Homo sapiens: one gene and its partners. The protein of the gene in region 1 purifies or fractionates together with the protein of each later gene. This does not show direct contact. Each region holds a gene or a part of one and is shown in the gene's direction. Other genes may lie near its edges. The genes, in order: SLC39A12, ABHD12, SREBF2 and LETMD1.

Region 1 (4,900 bases):
TTGATGATTTGAAAAGTCATCTCAAATTCTATCTCTTGAACCAGAACCATTTTTACTACCATGCGTCTATCTTGCCCAAAATATTTTTCTCCATAATAGTCCACTCAAAATAATCGTGATGGTTCAATAAATGACCTATACTTTATAAGTCTTTGCAAACAAAACCTTTCCAGAAAACACTTCTACTGTGTACTTTACCAAAGACTAAGAACAGCCAGGTGGCAGTAGGGACAGAGATGGGATATGCTGTTAATTCAGCCATGTTTTACAAAAGATAATTAATAATCTTGTTTGAAAAATGAGGAGGAGGAGGAGGAGGAGAGGGAACTACACAAGATCTTATTCCATATTTGGAAATTAGAGTAATCAAGGTTTGAGCCTGTAAATGACCACAGATGGTATGATTGTGTCTCACAGATGCAGTTTGAGATGCAGCTTACTGGGACAAAGGAAGGTGGTGGCCTATGTTGTCTGGCTTTGGAGAAAACTATTAAAAAATACTGAAAACTATTGAGAATCAAAGTGATTGGGGCTGAGTATGGTGGCTTATGCCTGTAATTCCAACACTTTGGAAAGCTGAGGCAGGAAGATCAGTTGAGCCCCGGCATTTGTGATCAGCCTAGGCAACATAGCAAGACCTCGTCTCTACTAAGAATTTTAAAATTAGCTGGGTAGGGTAGTATGCACCTGCAGTCTTAGCTACCCAGGAGGCTGAAGTGGGAGGATTGCTTGAGCCCAGGAGTTCACGGCTACAGTGAGCTATGATCACATCACTGCACTCCAGCCTGGGCAACAGTGAGACCCTGAATCAAAAAAAAGAAAAACAAGGTATTGGAAAATTCCCATGTATGTACCTTGTTAATCCCTCAAGAGTACCATCAAATGCAAGCTCTTTGAGAACAAATACTATTTCTTCCCTATACATATAAGCCTTAATCTAGAATTCTGCCATGTCCACTGTGGATTTTGAATTAATATCAAGGCATTTAGAAACCAAAACACTCTGAATGTTGAACTAATATCAAGGCATTTAGTAAATGAAAGATATTCATTCGCCACTTAGGAGGAAACGGGGAAAGTTTGTCATAAATCCATTGTTAACTATATGAGAAACTTGCAACAGTTACATATAGTTCAAACATTAAATATATGTAATTTAAAACATATACGTAATATATAAAACATGAAATCAGATGTTTCAGCTGCTTCTTGCTAAGTCACTTTACTACAAAATTGAAAATATAGACTGTTTTATCCACATTCCATAGATTTTCCAAAATGGCATTTTGAATTTATAATTGATGAATCAGATAAGATTTTTCTAAAGTATAACATGTTTAAACCTGGCATAAAGACACCAAAAGAGCATGTAATTTGTTTAAAATGGTCCACCCAGGAGAGCAGTTCTGGATCCTACTTTGTCTTTGAGTCCATTGCTCCATGCCGGGATGTGAGATGGCAGGTCATAGTAAACCACCCTCATGCCATTGAAATAACTACCTAAGATGAAGAAATATCTCAAACAGAGCATTCAGGGTGCTCCTCTCCATGTACTTAAAAATGTGTCAACCTGGCCAGGCATGGTGGCTCATGCCTGTAATCCCAGCACTTTAGGAGGCCAAGGCAGGTGGATCACCTGAGGTCAGGAGTTCAAGACTAGCCTGGCCAACATGAAGAAACCCTGTCTCTACTAAAAATACAAAATTAGCCAAGCATGGTGGTGGATGCCTATAGTTCCAGCTACTCGGGAGGCTGAGGTAGGAGAATCGCCATAACCCAGGAGGCAGAGGTTGCAGTGAGCCGAGATCATGCCACTGTACTCCAGCCTAGGCGATAAGAGTGAAACTCCATCTCAAAAAAAAAAAAAAAAAGTGTCAAGCCATTTTCTATTGCCATAAACCTAAAGTCCTTGATCATTCATTTGATCGATAAAATAATCTGAGTCGTTCTCTACTGGAGGTGATTTTTATCCCCCAGAGAAAATTTGACTGTGTCTGGAGGCATTTTTGCTTGCCATGATTGTGGGCAGAGACACAGCTGACATCTAGTAGGAGCCATAGATACTGCTACAACATCTTCTAATGGACAGGAGAGGGGTCTCACAATGAAGGATGATCTGGCCCAAAATGGCAAGATTGAGTTAAATCTCCAATCCTTGTTGACACGAGCCTGTGTCCCAATGGAAATGACTGTGTAATGAAAGAGGTATGCTTGCTCTGACCTTCTCAGGGTGAGGGCTTTGAAATAATTTGAGACAAATACACCTTGGGGCACTTCACACAGATGCGTGAGTGAACCCTTCCCTCTAAATGGTGTTAGGCCATTTCACAAACATGAAATAGTTGCCATGTGTTTCTCTGAGAATAAAATATAGCCACAGGACAGCCTGGTCAACACAGTGAAACTCTGTCTTTACCAAAACATACAAAAATTAGCCGAGTGTGGCAGCACATGCCTGTAGTCCTAGCTACTCAGGAGGCTGAGGCAGGAGAATTGCTTGAACCCGGGAGGCAGACATTGCAGTAAGCTGAGATCCCACCACTGCACTCCAGCCTGGGTGACAGAGTGAGACTCTGTCTCAAAAAAAAAAAACTTTATATATATATATATGTATATATATACACACACACACACACACACACGCACACATACACACACACATACATACACACACCATATATATGTGTATATATATGTATATACATATGTATATATGTGTATATATATGTATATACATATGTATATATGTGTATATATATGTATATACATATGTATATATGTGTATATATATGTATATACATATGTATATATGTGTATATATGTATATACATGTATATATGTGTATACATATGTATACATATGTATATACATATGTGTCTATATGTATATACATATGTATACGTATATGTATGTACATACATATGTATACGTATATATATGTACATACATATGTATATGTATATATATACACACATATATGTATATGTATATATGTATACATATATATATGTAGCCACAGGAGATAATGTCCTTACTGTTCTAAAGATCAGGAGGATCTTAGTCATCGCTCTCTCTCTCTCCTTTTCTTCCTCCCTCCTCCCATAATATGTATATATGCCTTACATCAACCTGTGCATATAGTAGTTCTATAAGCCTAATAGAACAGTCCAAAATAATAATTTTGATGCATTATTTACTTCACATTTAAACATTTTCTGAAAAGTAAGAGTTGGGTTTGTTTTTGGTTGGTAACTATGTCATTTTAAGACTTCTACCAAAGGCCAGGTGCAGTGGCTCACGCCTATAAGCCCCAGCACTTTGGGAGGCCGCAACATGCAGGTTGCTTGAGCCCAGGAGCTTGAGACCTGCCTGGGCAATACAGGGAAACCCCATCTCTACAAAAAAATGCAAAAATTAGCTGGGTGCAATGGCACGCACCTGGAAGGCTGAGGTGAGAGGATTGCTGGAGCCCAGGAGGTTGCTGTGAAATGTGATCGCAGCCATTGCACTCCAGCCTGGGTGACAGGGCAAAGACCCTGCCTCAAAAGAAAAAAAAAAAAAAAAAAAAGACTTTGCCAATCCTGGGATCCTCATAACCACAATCAAATGGCTTACTTTTAGCTTACATTTCAAAGACATGGTAGAGTAGGTATTCAGCATTTTGTAACTGTTTTGGGAATTTTAAAGGTTATTAAGTTCTGAATAACAGTCGCTCATGTTTTCCCACCAAGCTTTTCCCAGCAGTTGAATATATCTGGATCTTATTCTGGTTTTTTATTCTTTTTTTAGCTTCCTGAAATGACTCATGTTCAAACACAACGACCCTGGATGATGTTTCTCCTGCAAAACTTTGGATTGATCCTAGGTTGGCTTTCTCTCCTGCTCTTGGCTATATATGAGCAAAATATTAAAATATAAGTGAGGATCTTCAACATCTTTCAAAAATGCATTTATATAGTCTTACTTTGTTTCTTTCATTGCACTCTATAATGATTTTTAAATTAAGAATTTTTTATCTTAGGCAAAGTGTGTCTCTTTCAATTCATTAACTTATTAATTTTATAATGCAGTTTTATTTTTGGAAACATATAAATATCAGACTGTCCTTAATTGAAATTTTGTCTTTGGTTTCCAACACCATGATGAAGCTCTTGCTTTTTAAAAAGTAGTTAGTAAATTCTGCATGAATTTTAGTAAACTTTAAAAAATAGATTTTTTCCCTAAGAAAGAATGTTTGTAGAATTTAAAGTGGACAGATGCCTGTTGGAGTAAAATCAACTGCAACTTTTTGATGTTAATTTTTTTCCCTGTGCAATTATAAACTATAAGCAAGTTAAGTGACAAGCAAATGTAATAAAGACTAGTTTTAATATGGTGGTTTTTATTACCTTCTGTTACTGGATGTCAGATTCTGAGTCATCTCTTAAAAAAACAATGTATAGTTCACCCACTGACTCTAGAGCGCTTGTGAACAAGCCATTTTGGGAGACCTAAAGGATAACATGTCAGCATTCTTCTATGTAAGTCGTCAAATGAAATCTGTTCCAGGCAAGGGGAGCTGGAAACATAAGATGAAGTTCAAAATTTTTAAAGTAACAAAACTGGAGTCAGGCAGTAGATGAATGCCTAAACTCTCACAGATTTAACAGAGAATATTTATGGGAATAATCTCACTAACACGTGAGATATATTTTATCTTCTTTCTGAGGAAACAGAATCCTGAACAGGATTTCAATAGGTAAGTTCATGAAATGTACATGCAATTTACTGATAACCTAGCGAAAGTGTTGAAACAGAAAATAACCCTGGCTTTAGTCAGTTTTCTTAGAAAACAGATGCCTTATATTTTTCTTATTTTTTAAATGCTATTTCTTGACAAGGGAAAAAACCCATTTTACTC
Region 2 (7,032 bases), on another chromosome or scaffold:
TGGCCAGGCTGGTCTCGAACTCGTGACCTCGTGATCCACCCACCTCGGCCTCCCAAATTGCTGGGATTACAGGCGTGAGCCACAGCGCCCGGCCTGGAATATTTTTAAACAATTTTTTTTTTAAGAAAGTTCCGTCACCCAGGCTGGAGCACAGTGGCATGATCATGGCCCACTGCAGCCCAGACCTCCTGGGCTCAGGCGATCCTCCCATATCGATGCTGGGTGTATGCCACCACTCCTGGTTAATTTTTTTTTTTTTTTTTTAATAGAGATGAAGTCTCACTATGTTGCCCCCAGGCTGGTCTTGAATTTCTGGCTTCAAGCGATCCTTCTTCCTGGCCTCCCAAAGTGTTAGGTATGAAATACCGTGCCAGGCCTAAATTCTCCTGCCTCAGCCTCCCGAGAAGGTGGGATTACAGGCATGTGCCACCACACATGGCTAATTTTTGTATTTTTTGTAGAGATGGGGTTTCACCATGTTGGCCAGACTGGTCTCCAACTCGTGACTTCAAGTGATCTCCCTGTCACGGCCTCCCAAAGTGTTGGGATTACAGGTGTGAGCCACCATGTCTGACCTCTTTTTCTTTTCTGATTGCATTGTATTTCTAGAACAAAGTTAAATAATAGGGATGACACTGAGTAACTTGTTTCATTCCTGACTTTAATGAGAATGCTGTTAGTGTTTTTGCCATTTAAGTGCCATGCTGGGGTGTGTTGCTAATGTTGTGGGGAGCTTTTTGTTTTTGTTCCTGCTCCCTCACTGATGTTTTTAAAATAAAAAATGGTGATTGAGTTTTCTCAAATGCCAGTGTACATCTGTGGAATGATCATAGAGATTTTCTTCTTTTATCTGTTAACATAATGAGTTATAGTAATGGATTTATATTATTGAATCATCATTGTATTCCTGGGATAAACTCTCTTATTGTATAGCCAGATTCTATTTATTCATTTATTTTTTATTTTTATTTTTTGAGGCGGGGTTTCACTCTGTTGCCCAGGCTGGAGTGCAGTGGCACGATCTCGGGTCACTGCAACTTCTGCCTCCCAGGTTCAAGCAATTCTCTGGCCTCAGCCTCCCGGGTAGCTGGGATTACAGGCACCTGCCACCATGCCCGGCTAATTTTTGTATTTTTAATGGAGACGGGATTTTGCCATGTTGACCAGGCTGGACTCGACCTACTGACCTCAGATAATCTGCCTGCCTCAGCCTCCCAAAATGCTGGGATTATAAGGCGTGAGCCACCGCACCTGGCCTATTTATTAATATTTTATTTTGAAATTTTACATCATGAGGCCGGGCTCGGTGGCTCACGCCTGTAATCCCAGCACTTTGGGAGGCCGAGGCAGGCTGATCACGAGGTCAGGAGATCGAGACCATCCTGGCTGACGGGTGAAACCCCGTCTCTACTAAAAAATACAAAAAAAATTAGCCAGGCGTGGTGGCGGGCGCCTGTAGTCCCAGCTACTCAGGAGGCTGAGGTAGGAGAATGGCATGAATCCGGGAGGTGGAGCTTGCAGCGAGCCCAGATTGCACCACTGCACTCCAGCCTGGGCGACAGAGCAAGACTCCATCTCAAAAAAAAAAAAAGAAAGAAAAAGAAATTTTACATCATTTGTGAGAATAGTCTGTAATTTTCTCTTATGCAACCTTTATCAAGTTGTTTTAGTGTTTTCTATAGCTTTGTAAAAAGTTTCTTACATAACATTTTATTCTAAACTTTTATTTTTATTATTATTATTATTATTTTTTTGAGACGGAGTCTCGCTGCATCACCCAGGCTGGAGTGCAGTGGCGCGATCTTGGCTCACTGCAAGCTTTGCCTCCCGGGTTCACGCCATTCTCCTGCCTCAGCCTCCCAAGTAGCTGGGACTACAGGTGCCCACCAACACACCTGGCTAATTTTTTGTATTTTTTTTAGTAGAGACGGGGTTTCACCGTGTTAGCCAGGATGGTCTCAATCTCCTGACCTCGTGATCCGCCTGCCTTGGACTCCGAAAGTGCTGGGATTACAGGTGTCAGCCACCGCACCCGGCCATTTTATTCTAAACTTTTAGCCAGCTTAAGAATTTTTTAAATTATTTGTTTAAAATTTGGTAGAAATTCTCTTGTAAAACTGTCTAAGCCTGGTGCCTTTCTATTTATTTATTTATTTATTTATTTAAATTTTTTGGTACAGGCAGGTCTTGCCACGTTGCCTAGGCTGGTCTTGAACTTCTCTCTCAAGCAGTCCTTCCACCTCTGTCCCCCAAAGTATTGGGATTATAGGCATGAGCCACCACCCTAGCCAGTGCTGTTTCAGAATATAGCACTTCGGTAACTACTACAGTGTCTTCTACGTCTGTTTAGAATTTGCTATGTCCTGGTTTCAGTTTTGGTGGTTTATGTATTCTTATAAAATTACCAATTTAATTCACCTTTTCTCCTCTGTAGCTATGGCCATTTCCCTAGTTTTCTTCCCTGTTTTTTGTAATTAGGGTTTTTCCTCCGTTTTCCTCTTTTTTTTTTTTTTTTTTTTTTTTGAGTCTCACTCTTGTTGTCCAGGTTGGAGTGCAATGGCATGATCTTGGCTCATTGCAACCTCCGCCTCCCAGTTTCAAGCGATTTTCCTGCCTCCGCCTCCCGAGTAGCTGGGATTACAGGTATGTGCCACCACACCCAGCTAATTTTGTATTTTTAGTAGAGACAGGGTTTCTCCATGTTGGTCAGGCTGGTCTCAAACTCCCAACCTCAGATGTTCCACCCGCCTTGGCCTCCCAAAGTGTTGGGATTACAGGCGTGAGCCACCGCGCCTGGCCTGCTTTTTCCTCCTGATTTAGGCTAGTCAGTAATATATCTAATATCCATACATACACTGAAGTGGGGAAATATATATACACACACACATACACACACACACATGTTTTGTGCTCCATCAAAGAAAATATCTCTTTTTAGTTCTGGGGGATGCTGAGAAGTGGAGAGAACAGGTTCTTTCTGAAGGGGACAGCAGCTACCACACCCTGTCCTGTTGCTGCCTGGCAGGAATGTGGTCCCAGAGTGGCCAGATTGTCCAGTCTTTCTGGAAAAGACTAGCTGGTGTTTTTTTTAGTTTGTTTTGTTTTGTGTTTGAGATCGGGTTTGGCTCTACACCCGGACTGGAGTGCTGCAGTGCAGTCATGGCTCACTGCAGCCTCTGCCTCTCAGGGTCAAATGGTCTTCGCACCTCAGCCTTACAAGTAGCTGGGACTACAGGCACCCACCACCATGCCTAGCTAATTTTTGTATTTTTTGTAGAGACAGAGTTTTGCCATGTTGCCCAGGCTGGACTTGAACTCCTGAGCTCAAGTGATCCACCCGCCTAAGCCTCCCAAAGTGCTGGGATTACAGGCATGAGCCAGTGCACCCGGCCTTTTGTTTGTTTATATAGTTTTTTTTTTGTCTTAGTGTGTGTGCTTGTGTGTGTGTGTGTAGTATTGCCAACTTTTTTAACATTGGTAAGTAACTCAGATGAGAACAATTTTGGAGGTTAAAAAAAAAACCCCAAACCAGTTTTTTTTGTTTTTAAATTCTGGGCCAAAAGATAATTTTTAAAGGTAAATATTTATCTCATTCATAGGTCAACTCTGTACTCCTTGAGACGAGGAACTAGATCAGTTTTGCTTTGCATGGTATCTGGTGTGAGGAGGTACTGGGCAAATGAGTGATTTTTTTTTTTCTTTTTTTTTTTTTTGAGACAGAGTCTCACTCTGTCACCCAGGCTGGAGTGCAGTGGCGTGATCTCGGCTCACTGCAACCTCTGCCTCCCAGATTCAAGCGATTCTCCTGCCTCAGCCTCCTGAGTAGCTGGGACTATGGGCGCCCGCCACCATGCCCGGCTAATTTTTTTTCTTTTTTTTCTTTTTTTTTTTTTTTTTTTTGAGAAAGAGTCTCCCTCTGTTGCCCAGGCTGGAGGGCAGTGGCGTGATCTCGGCTCACTGCAACCTCCGTGTGCCAGGTTCAAGTGATTCTCCCGCCTCAACCTCCCGAGTAGCTGGGATTACAGGTGCACGCCACCATACCTGGCTAATTTTTTGTATTTTTAGTAGGGACGAGGTTTCACCATGTTGGTCAGGCTGATCTTGAACTCCTGACCTCATGATCCGCCCACCTTGGCCTCCCAAAGTACTGGGATTACAGGGGTGAGCCACTGTGCCCGGCCTTAATTTTTATATTTTTAGTAGAGACGGGGTTTCACCATATTGGCCAGGCTGGTCTTGAACTCCTGACCTTGTGATCCGCCTGCCTCGGCTTCCCAAAGTGCTGGGATTACAGGCGTGAGCCACCGCGCCCAGCCCAAATGAGGGATTTTGTGGGCCTTTCATTAGCCCTGGAATTGTTGGGAATGTGCATTGAAGGCATGACTGGTCTAATTTGGACCCTGAGAAGGCAGTCATGAGATGTACACGGTCTGTGTGTTACCTAGTCTTTATCCTCCAACTCCCAACCGACAGGCCAGATCTGCTGGATTGACAGAGATCAGTGGGCTGCATGGGAGGTTTCATAGCCAGATCACCCTCATACGTAAATGCCAAAGAACATAGTCATCACACCTATTTCTTCCTTTACCCAAAGAAGATACTTTATCCAAGGTTGCTAATGGCTTCCCCCTAACCCAGAAGAGTGGGTGGCTGAGGTTAACATCTGTCTTCTTCAGTGTCAGCCTTCCCGAGGTTCAGTATCAACCTCACCCTCTAAGTGTCCCTGTATGGTATCTCTTCATCTTTTCTTTACAGATTAGGAAGATGGGAGCGAGTTCTGAGCTAGCTTTTGTGGTTAAAGTCTGCTTCATCCATCTCCTTTTTCCTTTTGCTCCACCCTCAGTACAGTCTGGGCCAGGACTGTGACAAGGCATGGGGCTGGCTTTGTTTATGGCGCCATAGCTGGCCCCCCCCCTCAACTGGTACTGGTTTTCCTCTTCCTAACTCAGTGTACCTTATCAATGCTGCACTCCAGCCAGGGACTGGCCACACTGGGACTTGGTGCTTTGCCACTGCCTTCTGCTTTATTAGGACTCTGCATCCTGTATCTCTGCTTGGTTCCTAGTTCCTTTCAGCCACAGTGACCCTTCCCAAGGGAGTGTCCGCCTTCTATGGTGACTTTGGCAGACAGGCCTGAACTGTGAGGGGTATCTTTGGGCAGGCTGAAAGCACCTGAGGCACTTTCATGGAGGAAGCCTTGGAGAGAGGCATGGAAGATGGGTCATCTTGTCAGGTTTGTGCTAACAGCGATGGAGACAGGACCTCATTTCAGACTCCCGCTGCTGCAACTTCTCCTCCTCTTCGTTCCCCTCCTTTCTCTCCTCTTCCATTAGAACACTTGTCCTTCCAGAGTGAAATCTGCAGGGAAAATGTTTATTGAAATATAACCTCAAAAGCTGACAGATGAAGTCAATGCTCTTCACCCAGAGATGACGCCACAGGACTTTGGTCTCAGTGTGCTTGTGCTTTGGCAGGGGCCCTTTCAGCATGAGAGTGGGTAAGCCATCTATCTCGTGCCACACCGAGAGCCAGCGTCTAGAGTGTCAGTCAGTGAACAGGGGCCAAGAGCCAGGATGCCGGAACCAAACTGTCCCATTACCAGCAAGACTTCTCATTTAGGCCTCAGCCCCTTTGTATTGTGATTTACTGCTTCAGAGGATAGCCTTCATAGAGACCCAGGTCTCAGGTGAGTTTTCAGATTCTCTGGCTTGGGTGAGTTGTGTAACACTCTGAGTTTGTTTCTTCATCTGTGATGTAGGGATAAGAGTGTCTTCCCTGTAGGATTGTGGTGAGGCCCAGGTGTGTGGAATGTTCCTGGCACATGGTGAGTGCTTGGTCAGTGACATCTTCTAGATGACTAGCCCCATGATGATTATAATATTAAGAGCTCAGGGTACTGGCCAGTGTGGTGGCTCATGCCTGTAATCCCAGCACTTTGGGAGGCCGAGGCAGGCAGATCACTTGAGTTCAGGAGTTCAGGACCAGCCTGGCCAACGTGGTGAAACACCATCTCTACTAAAAAGACAAAAATTAGCCAGGTGAGGTTGTGAGCACCTGTAATCCCAGGTGAGGGATTATCTCCTGTAATCCTGGGAGGCTGAGGCAGGAGAATCGCTTGAACCCAGGAGGTGGAGGCTGCAGTGAGCCGAGATTGCACCACTGCACTCCAGCTTGGGTGACAGAGCGAGACTTTGTCTCAAAAACAAAACAAGGAAAAAAAAAAAAAAAGAGGGTACTGAGAAAGATCTGTTAGCTCATGTCTAGAAGGATTTTCTTCTACCCTTTTCTGCCCCAAACAATTAAGAGTCTGGCTTCTCAGCCAGTCGTGCATATAGGGTCCATCCTGATCAGTTAATGTGTCTGTTGGTATTAGAGCATTTGTAGCAATACTATTTGCTTATTTAACACTTTTTTCCAGCCACTCATTTAACAGTTTGAGTACCTGTTACGCCCAGTAACACCTGTGAATGCTGAGGCCGTTGCAGTTCTCCTGGCCTTTACATTCTGGTAGGGGAGGCAGATAAAACATGAAGAAACACATGATGTCATGTGCTTAGGGCACTAAGGAGGAAAATGGTGCCAGTGAGGGAATAGCCGCAGATGAGGCCCTGTGGCTGTGTGTGCACAGTCTGGGTGTACAGGGGATGTTTCTGACAAGGAGACATGTGAATGGATGCCACTGGCTGCTAGAGAAATGGCATGGTGTGTGTCATCATGTCACTCTGACTGTGTGACAAGCACAGACTGCGGTGGGCAAGCAGGGAGACCGGCTAGGGGCTGCCAGGGTCATCCAGGCAAGAGATGACAGGGGCTCAGGCCGGGACAGCAGCTGTGGAGATAAGAAGAGGCATGTGATTCTGGATTCACAAACTACTTTCTGAGCAACAGGAAGAATGGAGTTGCCAGATACTGAGATGGGGACAGATGTGGAAAGAGCAAGTGCTTTGGGGCAGGAGAAGTAATGTTTGGTTTTGGACATATTGAGGTGCCTGTTAAACATCCAGGTGGATAGGGGATAGAGTTCAAGGGGGA
Region 3 (7,032 bases), on another chromosome or scaffold:
CAGAAGCTTTGTGGTGGAGGCAGGCACTGGTGGTTCACAATCAGTGCAGAGAGGCCACTGTTGCCCCCAAAACTCATGTGCACTGGAGCATCTTGCCCCTGTGTGCTAGCATTTTATCCACTTTCCTTCCAGCCACCTCCACCCCCACCATCAACCCTGGCAACTTTGTCCTGTAACTAAAATAGCCTTTAGCACATGGCATAACCGGAGAGCTTTTGACATTCCTCTTTGGAGATTCATGTCTGCGTCTTGGGGGCATTCGGCACTAGTGATGGGCAGCCCTGCCTGCTGACTCCCCGGCTGTTTCTAATTGGATCTGAGTATTCTAAGAGAAACTGTAAAATGCTCCAAGACAGAAAGGCCCCACGAGGTCCTATCCTTAGAGCCAAGGCTGTAGCATTTCCTATCAAGCAGACCCTTAACCGGCGCACAGGAAGGAGCTGAGAAGAGTGAGTATACACAGGCTTGAAGTCCTTTGTTCCCTGAAGTAGATGTGACACCCTAATTTCATTGAAGTAGCCCCATTTGTAAGCACTCTGACTAGGTAAGCACCCAGCCCGGTATAGCATTCCACCTGTATGTGTGTCTCCCCCAGTCGATGTGCCTGAGGACACTGAGACTCAGCAGGTAAGTTGTCCAAAGTCACCTCGCTCCAGAGCAGCAGAGCTTCCATGGACAGCCAAGACACCCCTGCAGGCACTGCTGCCTGCTGGATTCACTTACCCCTGGGTCCCTCTGCTTTTCAGGGACTAGGATGCTATGAGAACCCTCCCCCATCCCTAGCCTCCCCTTCCACTCCCAGTCTCCTCTACAGAAAGAAGCTAACTAAGTATCTCCAGAGAGTTTAATACCACATCTCTGGGGGGGTGGTCCCTTAAAGAACGGGTACAACACCTTATTGTGGCCACTTTATAGGTAAGGAAACTGAGGCACACGTTGGAATGACTATCTTGGGTGGCTTCTTAGCAGCAGACGTGATGGTGAAGCCTGTGTCTCTGACTTCCAGCATTGAATGAAGGTGCTAAAGGGTGGGGCGCTAACCCTAGCTCAGGGCTGGCATTTCAGATCTGGAGCTGGTGGCATGGTGCCATAGTGGCAGCATTGGAGTCAACAGATGCACATGTCATATCAGTGTGGGGCGTGGCAGTCACTGGCTTGGGCCCCTCTGCCTGTCACGCAGGTGACACATAGTGACCTGCCTCTCGACTCCCTGTCACTGCTGCAGGAGCCCCCTGGTGAAGGCCATCTTCCATGCCTGCAGAGCCATGCATGCCTCACTCCCTGGGAAAGCAGATGGGCAGCAGAGTTCCTTCTGCCATTGCGAGAGGGCCAGTGGCCACCTATGGAGCAGCCTCAACGTCAGTGGGGCCACCTCTGACCCTGCCCTCAACCACGTGAGTGGGAGCTGAGTTGGCCCCTGGGGGAGGTGCTCTGCACTGGTTTACGAGAACACTCCCACTCACCTCATGCTGACCCTGCGGGTGGGGCCATCCGAAAGACAGAGAAACCAGGACAGCAGCCCCCTTTCAAAAAAGTTACGGCTTATTGGCCTAGGTGGACTCCTTTTTCATCCCTTTTCAGCCTCTGAGGCAAGTGTGTTTCTACCTGCACCTTTCTTAGGCTCCCAGAGTCCCAGGTCCTGCTGGCCCATAGCCTCTGTAAGCCCAGGTGCACCCCAGCTGGCCAGGGGTTCACCTGCATTTGCTCCAGCGGTTTGCGTGACTTCCCAGGCCTCTGCAGGCAGCCTTGGAGTGGGTTCCTGCCCCCTCGGGCACACAAACAGAGCTGAAGACCACCCTGGGCACCTCCTTGGCTGGCCGCATACCTCCTGGCGGGCAGCTGTGGTGCATTGTAGTTGCATTGCATGTTCTGGTGGTACCCATGCAATGTTTCCACAGTGCATCACAGAGGCCTGCCTGGCCCTCGAGAGACTGCCCTGACTGAAGGCCCTATCAGGTGGGGGAGGGGATCCTGATAGAGGGCACTGCTGCCACTGTTGGGGCCCAAGTCACAGCCATCCCAGGAAACAGGAGGGCACCCAGCTGAAAGTGGAGCATCACCTGGTCTACGGGGAACATGTCCTTAGCTCCAGAGTGGGAGGGACCGGGAGAGTCCTGGAGATTCAGATTCTCAGCCACTCCCTGGGGCTTGGTCTTAGCTGGCTAGGCTAGTACTTCAAGCTAGATATTGTCAGTGGACCTGGGCACTGGGATGAACCCAGGACAGCGTGGCAGCCCCTACAGGGACAGGCAATGTGCAGAAAAGGCCCAAACTGGCTGGACGCGGTGGCTCACACCTGTAATCCCAGCACTTTGGGAAGCTGAGGTGGGCAGATCACCTGAGGTCAGGAGTTCGAGACCAGCCTGACCAACATGGTGAAACCCCGTTTGTACTAAAAATACAAAAATAAGCCAGGTGTGGTGGCATGTATCTGTAATCCCAGCTACTCAGGAGGCTGAGGCAGAAGAATCACTTGAACCCAGGAGGTAGAGGTTGCAGTGAGTCGAGATTGCACCACTGCACTCCAGCCTGGGCAACAGAGCGAGACTCCATCTTTAAAAAAAAGCTGGTGGGGGTGCCCAAATGCCCTGGGCTGCCAAGACCAAAGGCAGATGGTGAGCCACATTTCACCTTCTCTTTTGGGCTTTCCATTAGTCTCTTCCGTATTTGTCTTCATGAGAGAACCAAACAGTACAGGCTCAGTTTGGGGAATGAGAGGCTTGCAGCCACCCTTTGGACTGGGGTTCCTTGGTAGCAGCTCTGTGGTAGGAAAGTGAGCCTAGAAGACAACGCCATGCAGCCTGATGGCCCTCGGAGGGCAGAATCCAGACATAGGCCTGCTGCCTCCATGCCCACAGGTGCTTCTGCAGCATGCACAGCTTAGAAGTGCCAGGTTTTGAGGAGAGGGATCCTTTTCCACATCCCCTTGAAGCACACAACAGCCAGAAAACAGTGTAGGCAAGGATCAAGGCCTTGTGCAGGGACAGGGCAGGGTCTTCCTCAGGCCCAGTGTCCTGGGAAGGAGGAAAGCCAGGGCTGGGTGAGATGAGGCTCAGCCTGAGGGAGTTCATCAGGACCGGAGGGCTGCTTGCGGCCCATCTCAACAAGGACTCCTCACTGCTCGGTGTCGTGCAGGTGTGCCACTGCGAGCCGGGTGGGCAGCCCAGCCCCATAGGTCGTAGGCAGAGAGTATGCATGGCCCACATGCAGTACCTTCTCATATGATACAACAGCCCTGTGATGGTGCCATTTACATTTTTTTGAATGAAGAAACTGAGGCTCAGAGAGACTAAGTCCTATGCCAGGGTCATGTAGCTAGTAAGTGGCAAAGCCGGGTCAGTAGGCCTAGTCCCCAAGCACTAAGGCACTCTGTGGTTCTGTCTTCTGAGACACCTGTCTCCCTCTCCCACTCCTCCTCCTCCTTCCCCCAGCCCCATCGACAGGCTCTGCTGCCACTTCAGGCTTTTCCTTGGTACCTTGTGGGTATCTCAGCCTCCTAGCCAGCCATGGTGGGACTCCCATGGGGTGGAAGAACCTGCGCCTTCAACCCACAAGGGTTTTATTTCTGCCCCTGCCACCTGCCTGTGCTGTATTCCCTATACAAGCTGCTGTCCCTGTCAGAGCCTTGCTTTCTCACCTGCAGAATGGGGAGGGCTTGTCTCCCACCTCCTGGGGCCATGGAAGGAACTGGTTCTCCCCTGAGCTGTTCCCTCACGTCCTGCGGAGTTCACCAGACTCTGGGGCTCTCCACTTCCTCCCAGAGCTGCTGAGTGTTGGTCTGGGGAGAGGCCTGGTAGGTGCTAGGATCCTTGCCTCAGGGATGGGCCAGTCACCTGTCTCCCCTCTCTCGTGGCTGACCCCACAGGTGGTCCAGCTGCTCACCTGTGACCTGCTACTGTCGCTACGGACAGCGCTCTGGCAAAAACAGGCCAGTGCCAGCCAGGCTGTGGGGGAGACCTACCACGCGTCAGGCGCTGAACTGGCGGGCTTCCAACGGGACCTGGGCAGCCTGCGCAGGCTGGCACACAGCTTCCGCCCAGCATACCGCAAGGTGAGGCCCAGCTGGCTGGTGGGGCAGGGCAGATTGGAGCCTGTGGGGCCTGAGCCCAGAACCCAGCATGGGCACCAGCATGTGGTTGTGGAGTTGGCCCTCTGAGGTCAGCCTGGTGACCTGTCGAGCACCTGCTTGGCTCGTGCCCAACACTGGGCTAGGCGCCATGTGTCCCTGTGTTCAGCACACATTGGTTGAGTGCCTGCTGTATGCCTGGCCCTGGAGCTCAGCAGGGAGCAGGCCACACTTTGCTGCCACAGACAGGGGCCAGCAGGGAGCTGTGCCTCCCCAGGCACATGCTGGGTGGGAGGGCTCTGAGGGCAATGGTGGCAAGTCAGGGCTCCTGGCCTGGTCCCGAGCTCCACGTTGACTTTCATTCTTTTTCACAGTAGCTAGAGGCTTCGGTTCTGCTGCTGGGTAACATCCCCTTGGCAGTGGCCACGTGATCTGAACTAAGTCACGGAGGAAAGTTCTATGACTGGGCTTGCCAGGCTCCAGCTATTTCCTTTTTTGTTTATTTGTATTGCTATATAATGTATTCAACATATTTGTACCTGTATTTTTTTCTAAAAATTTGAGTGAGATGACTCAAGTGTCATTGAGGGGGCACGGGCTGGGCTGGAAGAAGGCCTCAGAGCGAGGCTGCTGCCGTGGAGCTTGGGATTCAGCCCCCACACCCATCACCCTGAGGTGCTGCGGGGCCCACCCAGGGTTGCACTGTGGCCACTGTGTGCAGCAAGCCAAGACAGACACAACAGACAGTATCATCGGAGAGCCATTCCTTACTGTGGAGAAGAGGGCATGTACCCCAGGCCTGGAGCGGCACCCCTGCCTCCTGGAGCCCACTCTGGTCAGCTCTCTGGTCTGCTCACAGCATGGCTGGCATCAGTGGCCTTTTTTTCATAATAGATGGGGTCTTGCTATGTGGCCCAGGCTGGTCTCAAACCCCTAGCCTCAAGCTGTCCTCCTGCCTCGGCCTCCCAAAGTGCTGGGATTACAGGTGTGAGCCACCTCGCCTGGTCCAAAGGCCTCCTCTTAAATACCATTTCCATTCTGCTGCTCCCTGCTGAGAGCCCATCAGCGGCTCCCCATTGCCTACCAGGACCAGAATCCACTTGGCAGCACTGAAGACCCTCCCTGAAGACTGAGATATAAAGGCATCAAAAAGAGCTTGAGATTTTAAGAAATGACAGACCTCAGCCTTGCCCTTCACCCACCAGTGGCTCATACCTAAGCGCTGCAGACTTTACCCGCACACCTCTAGACTCTCTTCCTTTCTAAAGATACGGAAAGAGGATACCAAACCTCTCTGGTACCAGCCCAACTGTCCCTCCTCACCCCTCTGTCCCTGTCACACCTGTCCTTTTGTCAAACTGCAGGCAGCCTCCAGGGCCTTGGGGCTTCACCCAGGGCACTTGTCTACCAGCCCCACGAGGTGCGTCCAGGGCTTTCTTGTCACCAGTTGGGAAAAGCAGGCCTTTTGCCTCTCTCTCCTCTCATCCTGCTCCTGCTGTTCAGCCAGGTTTCCTGCCTGGCTCAGGGTCAGAGTACGGGACAACAGAGGTTGCTTTTCAGGGGTGAGCAAGGCAGGGTGGTGTGGGAAGGGATGTCATGAGGTGGCAGGCGAGATGGCTCAGGGAGAGCTACCCTGGGCATAGATGGGTGGGGACCAGGGGTGTGATGGATGTCACCCCGGCACCTCCCCAGGTGTTCCTGCATGAAGCCACCGTGCGCCTGATGGCAGGAGCCAGCCCCACCCGCACCCACCAGCTGCTGGAACACAGCCTGCGGCGGCGCACCACGCAGAGCACCAAGCACGGTGAGTCCACCCCTCCCCAGCTCACAGGCTGGGCCAGGCCCTGCGCCCTAGGAAGAGAGGAGAAGAGGGGCCAGCCCAGCTCCCACATCTGGCATTGGTGCCCAGCACACCTCTCGCCTCTCTGAGAATGAAAGAAGCCCGAGGCCGCCCTTGGTGGGTTGCAGGGGTTGGGGTGGTCATGGGTCATGCTGTGATCAGGGAAGGAGGGTTGGGGTGGCGTCCCAGCACAGGTGCAGGCATAGAAGCAGAAGCTCGAGCCAGGTCATGTGGGCCCATCTCAGCCCCACCACGGGCTGGCCGTGAGAGGCTGGACAAGTTCACTTCTTTTCCGTGGATTGGGTGGGGCAGCAGACCCCACCTCCCAGGATGGATGTGAGCGTTCAGTGAATGAGTCCAGGTAACGCCAAGGAACTGCACCAACTTCATGGTAGATTCTCGGTTGTGACACACATCTCCTTCCCACAGGAGAGGTGGATGCCTGGCCCGGCCAGCGAGAGCGGGCCACCGCCATCCTGCTGGCCTGCCGCCACCTGCCCCTCTCCTTCCTCTCCTCCCCGGGCCAGCGGGCAGTGCTGCTGGCCGAAGCTGCCCGCACCCTGGAGAAGGTGGGCGACCGGCGCTCCTGCAACGACTGCCAGCAGATGATTGTTAAGCTGGGTGGTGGCACTGCCATTGCCGCCTCCTGACCACCAGGCTCAGCCCACCCCTCCACCTCTCTCTCGATTTCTCTCTCTCCCCCTCAGCATCTTCCCGCTGAGAGTGGTGGGGAAGAGCCTTGTCTTCTTAGCTGTCACCTGCCGAGGCTTCTGGGCCACTCAGGCCAGTGCACCCCTGGGCAGAGCCCCTTAAAGCTGCTGTCACTAGATGCCCATGGTCCAGGGCCTGGTGGGCGTGAGAGGATAGGTGGCAGGGCAGAAACTGGGCAGCCCTGACTTGATAGCAGCAGGGGGAGCTCCCAAGCTGCCAAGCCCCTGCCTCCAGCCTTCCTGAGTTTCTCTCTCCTGAACCCTACTCTCTCCTTTTTGCTTCCTCAGTTTTTATCAGGCTTTCTCTGGGGGACAGCAGTCTCTGAGCACCAGGGAGCAGTTGCCCTCAGGCCTGTGCCCAGCATGCCCTCCCCTTTTTATACGAATGTTTTCTACCAGTGTGCTTGGGTTTGCCA
Region 4 (7,032 bases), on another chromosome or scaffold:
TCAGGAGGTGGACGTTGCAGTGAGCCGAGATTGCGCCACTGCACTCCAGCCTGGGCGACAGAGCAAAACTCCATCTCAAAAACAAAAATAAGTGTTCCAGGCCGGGCGCAGTGACTCATGCCTGTAATCCCAGCACTTTGGGAGGCCGAGGCAGGTGGATTGCTTGAGGTCAGGAGTTAAAGACGAGCCTGTCCACATGGTGAAACCCCATCTCTACTAAAAATGCAAAAATTAGCCAGGCATGGTGGCACACGCCTGTAATCCTAGCTACTTGGGATTCTGAGGTGGGAGAATTATATAAACCTGGGAGGTGGAGGTTGCAGTCAGCCGAAATCGCACCACTGCACTCCAGCCTGGGCAACAAAGTGAGATTCCATCTCAAAAAAAAGAAAAAAAAAGTTCCAGAAAGGAGATTAAATTAATATCTGGCTGGGGAATACATAGGGTTAATTTAGCAAGACTTTCTGAAGTTAGGGAGCTTGATTTTTAAAAAGGAGTGACCAGTGAAACAGAAGAGGGAGACCATTCCATAGCAGATTACAGAAGCCAAATGTAGCTAGAAGAGAGGCGATGTGCTAGGGGAAAAAATGTTGAGAAAAGAGATTCGAGTTGACCTCAGGAGTTTCAAGTTACCTAGTTTAAAGCTTTGAGTATCGTTGGGGAGGGGTGAGAGTGTTTGCATGTGATTGAACATGGAGTAGGAAGCTGTGGTTAAGATTTAAACTGGGATAACATCACACTCTGTCCTCTACTTTAATGAGGCAGGATTGCAGATGTTATGGGCTGATGCCAAAAAGGCTAGAAGAATAAAGACAAATATGTGGAAGCACAATATAAAGTTTCATCAACTTCCATACCGGGAGATGGAGCATTTGAGACAGGTATGGGCCAGGGGCAGATATCCAGAAGTTCATGGTGAGGTAATTACATTTAATCAAGATCTCAAGGTTTTTTCTTTCATTTGTTGTTCACCATTGATCAAGCTTTTGCCCTTTGCCGTGAGAACAAAATATTGAACTGAATGAGGCATCAGATTATTTGTAAGAATTGGGTTCATCCAGAGTTGTAGCCCTCCATAGCAAGAGCTCCATAGAATTTCTGGCACACTTTCTGAATGAAAGTTGTAAATACTAAAATCTAATTAGTTTCTGAACATAACAAAAGTCTGCAAGGGGGCTGGGCGCGGTGGCTCACGCCTGTAATCCCAGCACTTTGGGAAGCCGAGGCAGGCAGATCACGAAGTCAGGAATTCGAGACCAGCCTGGCCCACAAGGTCAAACCCCATCTCTACTGAAAATACAAAAATTAGCTGAGTGTGGTGGCGGGCGCCTGTAATCCCAGCTACTCGGGAGGCTGAGGCAGGAGAATCGTTTGAACCCGGGAGGCAGAGGTTGCAGTGAGCCAAAATCATGCCATTGCACTCCAGCCTGGGTGACAGGGCAAGACTCCATCTCAAAAAAAAATAATAATAAAATGAAAATAGAAGTCTGCAAGGGCAGCCAGGCACAGTGGCTCTCGCCTATAATCTCAGCATTTTGGGAGACTGAGGTGGGCGGATCACCTGAGGTCAGGAGCTTGAGACCAGCCTGGCCAACATGGTGAAACCCCATCTCTACTAAAAATTCAAAAATTAGCTGGGCATGATGGCAGGCGCCTGTAGTCCTAGTCCCAGCTACTCGGGAGGCTGAGGCAGGAGAATTGCTTGAACCTGGGAGGCGGAGGTTGCAGTGAGTGAAGATCGCGCCACTGCACTCCAGCCTGGGTGATAAGAGCAAAACTCTGTCTCAAAAAAAAAAAAGTCTGCAAGGATCCAAAGGGCAGCATGAAAGTAGTATTTGGTGGTGACTTGATGGGTCGTTTTGAAGCTGAGAGTAAGAATCTAGGACCCATTCCGCAGATCAGGAAGAGTTCACTGAAGGATTTGGTATAATGTCAGGCTCTGTACTAGACATTATTTGGGATACAAAAGTAAATAAGTCAGAGGTTTTGTCCTCAAGGAACTAACCATCCAGAAGTAAATAGAAATAAACTTGGGGACCACATGCAGTGCTCATGCCTGTAATCCTAGCACTTTGGGAAGCCAAGGCGGGCAGATCACTGGAGGTCAGGAGATTGATACCAGCTTGTCCAACATGGTGAAACCCTGTCTCGACTAAAAATACAAAAGTTAGCCTAGAGTGGCGGCTTATGCCAATAATCCCAGCTACTCGGGTGGCTGAGGCAGGAGGATCACTTGAACCCAGGAGGCAGAGGTTGCAGTGAGCTAGGATTGCACCACTGCACTCCAGCCTAGGTGACAGAGCAAGACTCCATCTCAAAAAGAAAAAGAAAGAAATTTGGTCCTTTTTCTGGGCTGTAATAGAAGTTTACTGTACAGTGGGGTGGATGGATTGTCTATTGTATTAACAACTTATTTGGGTTAAAACTGCATCTGTGTTTATTTCTGCTTAGTTCCGCCAAGACGTCACCAAGTGTCTTTTCCTAGGTATTATTTCCATTCCACCTTTTGCCAACTACCTGGTCTTCTTGCTAATGTGAGTACAGACTTCCATCTCCCCAACATCTTGAAGATGTATCAATTTTTTTAAATTAAGAATTACTTTAAACAGCACTCATTTCAGAAGATAGGCAGAGGTTATCAAACTTCTGCTCCAATCTTCTCATTATTCCAAGGTTCATAAAAACCACTTAGGAAGACCTTGGTTACTGTGACACATCACAGCTATAAGTGTAGGTGGCCTAGACTCTCCCTATCTCTTAGCTGCCCTGAGTCATGTGAAATAAGATAGTGACCTTCTCCATCATCCCTAGAGGCTCTCTCCCCGAGAGAGAGTACTTTTAGACTAATTTCTTTAGGAAAAGTACATTTCGTATTCTGATAACATTTTTATTACTTCATATCCAAAAATGACATTTCTTAACTGTGATCTTGCATGTCATTCATTATCTATTGCTGTATAACAAATAACTTCAAAGCTTAATAGCATAAAACAATCGTATAAATCATTTTCATGATTTTGTAGCTCAAGAATTAGGGCAGTGCTCAGGTGGGCAGTTGATTTCTCTCTTCCATATAGGGTTGACAGAGGTCCCTTAGTGATATTTAGCTGCTGAATGGACTAGTCTGGAAAGTCCAATATCACTCTTATGTCTGGTGCCCTGGCAGGGATGGCTACACGGCTAGAACTGTCAACCAGAGTGCCCAGATGTGGCTTCTTCAGTATGGCAGCCTCAAGATAGTGGGACTTCTAACTTGGGAGCTCAGGGCTCCAAGAGTGAGGGGTTCTAGTAAGAATCTACATGACTTTATAACCTTGTCTTGAAGGTCACATAGAGTCACTGCTGCTCTGTCCTATTGATTGAATCAGTCACCTAGAATGAAAAAAGGGCAGGATGTAGACCTCAGCTCTCCATGAGACAAGTGCCAGAGAATTTGAGGTCATGTTTTAAAACCACCAAACACGTAGATAAATAAATTAAAAAACAAATCGTGGCCAGGTGCAGTGGCTCACGCCTGTAATCCCAGCACTTTGGGAGGCCGAGGCGGGCAGATCACAAGGTCAGGAGATTGAGACCATCCTGGCTAACACAGTGAAACCCTGTCTCTACTAAAAATACAAAATACTAGCTAGGCGTGGTGGCGGGTGCCTGTAATCCCAGCTACTTGGGAGGCTGAGGCAGTAGAATCGCATGAACCCAGGAGGCAGAGGTTGCAGTGAGCCGAGATCGCGCCACTGCAGTCCAGCTTGGGTGACAGAGCGAGACTCTGTCTCAAAAAAAAAACAACAAATCAGTTGCCTTTTACATACTGGGTCCACATAAGGACTGTGCTATAGTTAGATTGTCAACATCACATATAGTGTCCTGGTCAGGCTGCAACTCTCTCCAAAGCATGCTCTTCACATGCTTTAGTTCAAAATGAGTCATTATATCTGATTGCTGCGTGGCAGGCTATTCTGCTAGTCCTTCCTTTCACATCCCATTTCAGTAATGGTGCTTGAAATTGTGCTTCAGTGTGTCTTATAAACTTTGGTCTGAGAGTCACTTAAGAGAAAGGGCTGACTGTAGTGGCTCTCACCAGTAATCCCAGCACTTGGGGAGACTGAAGCAGGAAGATTGCTTGAGACCAGGAGTTTGAGACCACCCTGGGCAATATAGCAAGACCCGTCTCTGCAAAAAAATTAAAAACTTAGCCAGGCATAGTGGCCTGTGCCTGTAGTCCCAGCTACTCAGTAGGCTGTGGTGGGAGGATTGCTTGAGCCTAGGAGGTCGAGGCTGCAGTGAGCTGTGATCTTGCCACTGTACTCCAGCCTGGGTGAGAGAGGGGACCCTGTCTCTTAAAAAAAAAAAAAAAAAAAAAAAAACTGAAAAAGAAAAAGAACACTGAGGTAGGGAAATAGTGTCTCCATCTCTTCTTCCTAGTATTCATGTCTACCAAATGCTTTCTTTGGCTTCCTCTGAAAGAAGCCAGTTTCAGCAAGTGAGTTTGTGATTCTTTCTCCTTTCAGGTACCTGTTTCCCAGGCAACTACTGATCAGGCATTTCTGGACCCCAAAACAACAAACTGATTTCTTAGATATCTATCATGCTTTCCGGAAGCAGTCCCACCCAGAAATTATTAGTTATTTAGAAAAGGTCATCCCTCTCATTTCTGATGCAGGACTCCGGTGGCGTCTGACAGATCTGTGCACCAAGGTATTCCTGCAGTTAACCCTTCCTACAAATGTGGAATCTTGTTAGATTCAGTGTGCACTAAACTAGGTAAGAGGAGTAGTCAGGACTTTCCTAACATCTACAAATCTCTTACCTCTTCCAAGATACAGCGTGGTACCCACCCAGCAATACATGATATCTTGGCTCTGAGAGAGTGTTTCTCTAACCATCCTCTGGGCATGAACCAACTCCAGGCTTTGCACGTGGTGAGCACTTTGAGGGCTTCTCTTTTCCATAGCATCACCATGTTTCAGGTGTTTGCTTGAGCTCATACTATTTGCCTTTCCCCTCCTATGTGGTTGTGTTACAGAAAGCCTTGAGCCGGGCCATGCTTCTCACATCTTACCTGCCTCCTCCCTTGTTGAGACATCGTTTGAAGACTCATACAACTGTGATTCACCAACTGGACAAGGCTTTGGCAAAGCTGGGGATTGGCCAGCTGACTGCTCAGGAAGTAAAATCGGTAAGAGCTTGATTGCAACATCAACCCTCAACCCTTGGTGTGCTTTTGAGCCTATGGCAGGCCGGAGGTTTACAGGGGCTCCTTGTCTTGTTTGTTTATAGAACCCAGCTTCTTTATTCTCTCACTTCATTTATTTATTTATGATTTATTTTTATTTATTTATTTATTTTGAGACAGAGTCTCATTCTGTTGCCCAGGCTAGAGTACAGTGGCACAGTCTTGGCTCACTGCAACCTCTGCCTCCCGGTTCAAGTGATCCTCCTACCTCAGCCTCCCAAGTAGCTGGATTACAGGTGTGCACCACCACGCCCAGCTAATTTTTTGTATTTTTAGTAGAGATGGTTTCACCATGTTTGCCAGGCTGATCTCAAACCCCTGGCCTCAAGAGATCCATCAACCCAAAGTGCCGAGACTACAGGTGTGAGCTACCGCACCCAGCATATTTATTTATTTTTCAGTCTCACTATTTTAACCAAGCTGGTCTTGAACTCCTGGCCTCAAGCAATCCTCCCATCTTGGCCTCCTAAAGTGCTGGGAATACAGCCGTGAACCACTGTGCCCGGCCTTTTTAAAAATTATTTTTTAATTAGCCAGGAGTGGTGGCACATGCCTGTAATCCCAGGTACTTGGGAGGCTGAGACATGAGAATTGCTTGAACCCAGGAGGTGGATTGCAGTGAGCCAAGATCGCACCACTGCACTCCAGCCTGGGTGATAGAGTGAGACTCTGTCTCAAAAAAAACCCAAAAAATAAAATAAAATTATTTTTTATTTTTGTAGAGACAGGGTCTCACTATGTTGCCCAGGCTGGTCTTGAACTCCTGGGCTCAAGTGATCCTCCCGCCTTGGCCTTTCAAAGTGTTGGGATTACAGGCATGAGCCACTGCGCCCAGCTCCTCACCTCATTTCTGTGTCTTTTTTCTCAAGAAACTTAGCTAGGGGGAAGGAATTGCCCACAGAAATTTTGGTTTGTATTTCTTTTCTTCTGGCACTTCAGAAAGCAAGGATACTGCAGTTTAGACCTACTATTTTAGCTTATATAGGACTCTTTGCTTTTGTCATCTTGTCCATCACTAGTTTTCAAATTGCCATGAGGAAAGGCTTCATGTGGGAATGAGATTGTAACTTTTTTTTTTTTTTTTGAGACAGAGTCTCGCTCTGTTGCCCAGGCTGGAGTGCAGTGGCATGATCTTGGCTCACTGCAACCTCCGCCTCCCAGGTTCCAGTGATTCTCCTGCCTCAGCCTCCCGAGTAGCTGGGACTGCAGGTGCATGCCACCACGCCTGGCTAATTTTTGTATTTTTTAGTAGAGATGGTGTTTCACCATATTGGCCAGGCTGGTCTCCAACTCCTGACCTCGTGATCCGCCTACCTCGGCCTCCCAAAGTGCTGGGATTACAGGCACGAGCCACCGTGCCCGGTGAGATTGTAACTTATTTAAAGGAGATTTAGGATTGTTTGTGGATTTCCATTTCCTTGGCATAATCATTCTATGATTATTAAGGACCATTTCTGTTCTGAGTGGTATAGGCTTGTTATCTCCGTGGCCTGAATTCTACGCATATTGGTGAAGATAGGTGTCGAACTTGGCTGGGAGAATGGCTGCAGATTTCCTGCAGCCTGAAAGGTAAAACACATTTCTGTGGTTATACCACTAAAATCCAAGTCACTTTTGTATTTTATTCTGAGGTCATTTTGGAGTTAATTATTGAGTACTGTGAGACATATATATACATACATCTAATTGAAAGGGCACAAACTCACATGCCTACTGCATGCCCGGCAGGTAACGAAGTAGGCCATAAGACAAGAGGGAGTAGTGGGGACTGTGGAAACCTAAGAGTGAATGCATGCTAG

The links.
Region 2: the proteins of SLC39A12 (region 1) and ABHD12 purify together in Homo sapiens (co-immunoprecipitation; 4 studies listed by BioGRID and IntAct, with this or other methods). This does not show direct contact.
Region 3: the proteins of SLC39A12 (region 1) and SREBF2 purify together in Homo sapiens (affinity purification with mass spectrometry; 3 studies listed by BioGRID and IntAct, with this or other methods). This does not show direct contact.
Region 4: the proteins of SLC39A12 (region 1) and LETMD1 purify together in Homo sapiens (affinity purification with mass spectrometry; 3 studies listed by BioGRID and IntAct, with this or other methods). This does not show direct contact.

Annotation. Positions count from the first base shown.
Region 1 is NC_000010.11:18,038,916-18,043,815, forward strand, and holds the end of SLC39A12 (zinc transporter ZIP12 isoform 1 precursor), read left to right. Parts: intron 1-3,789; coding exon 3,790-3,918; 3' UTR 3,919-4,370; downstream 4,371-4,900. UniProt on the Homo sapiens protein: Uniporter that promotes Zn(2+) import from the extracellular space to the cytoplasm across the cell membrane. The transport activity is temperature dependent. May play a role in neurulation and neurite extension.
Region 2 is NC_000020.11:25,380,823-25,387,854, reverse strand, and holds part of ABHD12 (lysophosphatidylserine lipase ABHD12), read left to right. Parts: intron 1-7,032.
Region 3 is NC_000022.11:41,899,105-41,906,136, forward strand, and holds part of SREBF2 (sterol regulatory element-binding protein 2), read left to right. Parts: intron 1-132; coding exon of another isoform or gene 133-292; exon of another isoform or gene 293-1,018; intron 1,019-1,225; coding exon 1,226-1,394; intron 1,395-1,839; exon of another isoform or gene 1,840-1,908; intron 1,909-3,865; coding exon 3,866-4,051; intron 4,052-5,758; coding exon 5,759-5,870; intron 5,871-6,335; coding exon 6,336-6,556; 3' UTR 6,557-7,032.
Region 4 is NC_000012.12:51,051,327-51,058,358, forward strand, and holds part of LETMD1 (LETM1 domain-containing protein 1), read left to right. Parts: intron 1-761; exon of another isoform or gene 762-765; coding exon 766-881; coding exon of another isoform or gene 882-920; intron 921-2,451; coding exon 2,452-2,534; intron 2,535-4,508; coding exon 4,509-4,695; intron 4,696-4,817; coding exon 4,818-4,919; intron 4,920-5,023; coding exon 5,024-5,176; intron 5,177-6,679; coding exon of another isoform or gene 6,680-6,705; coding exon 6,706-6,802; intron 6,803-7,032. UniProt on the Homo sapiens protein: Plays an essential role for mitochondrial structure and function, as well as thermogenesis of brown adipocytes.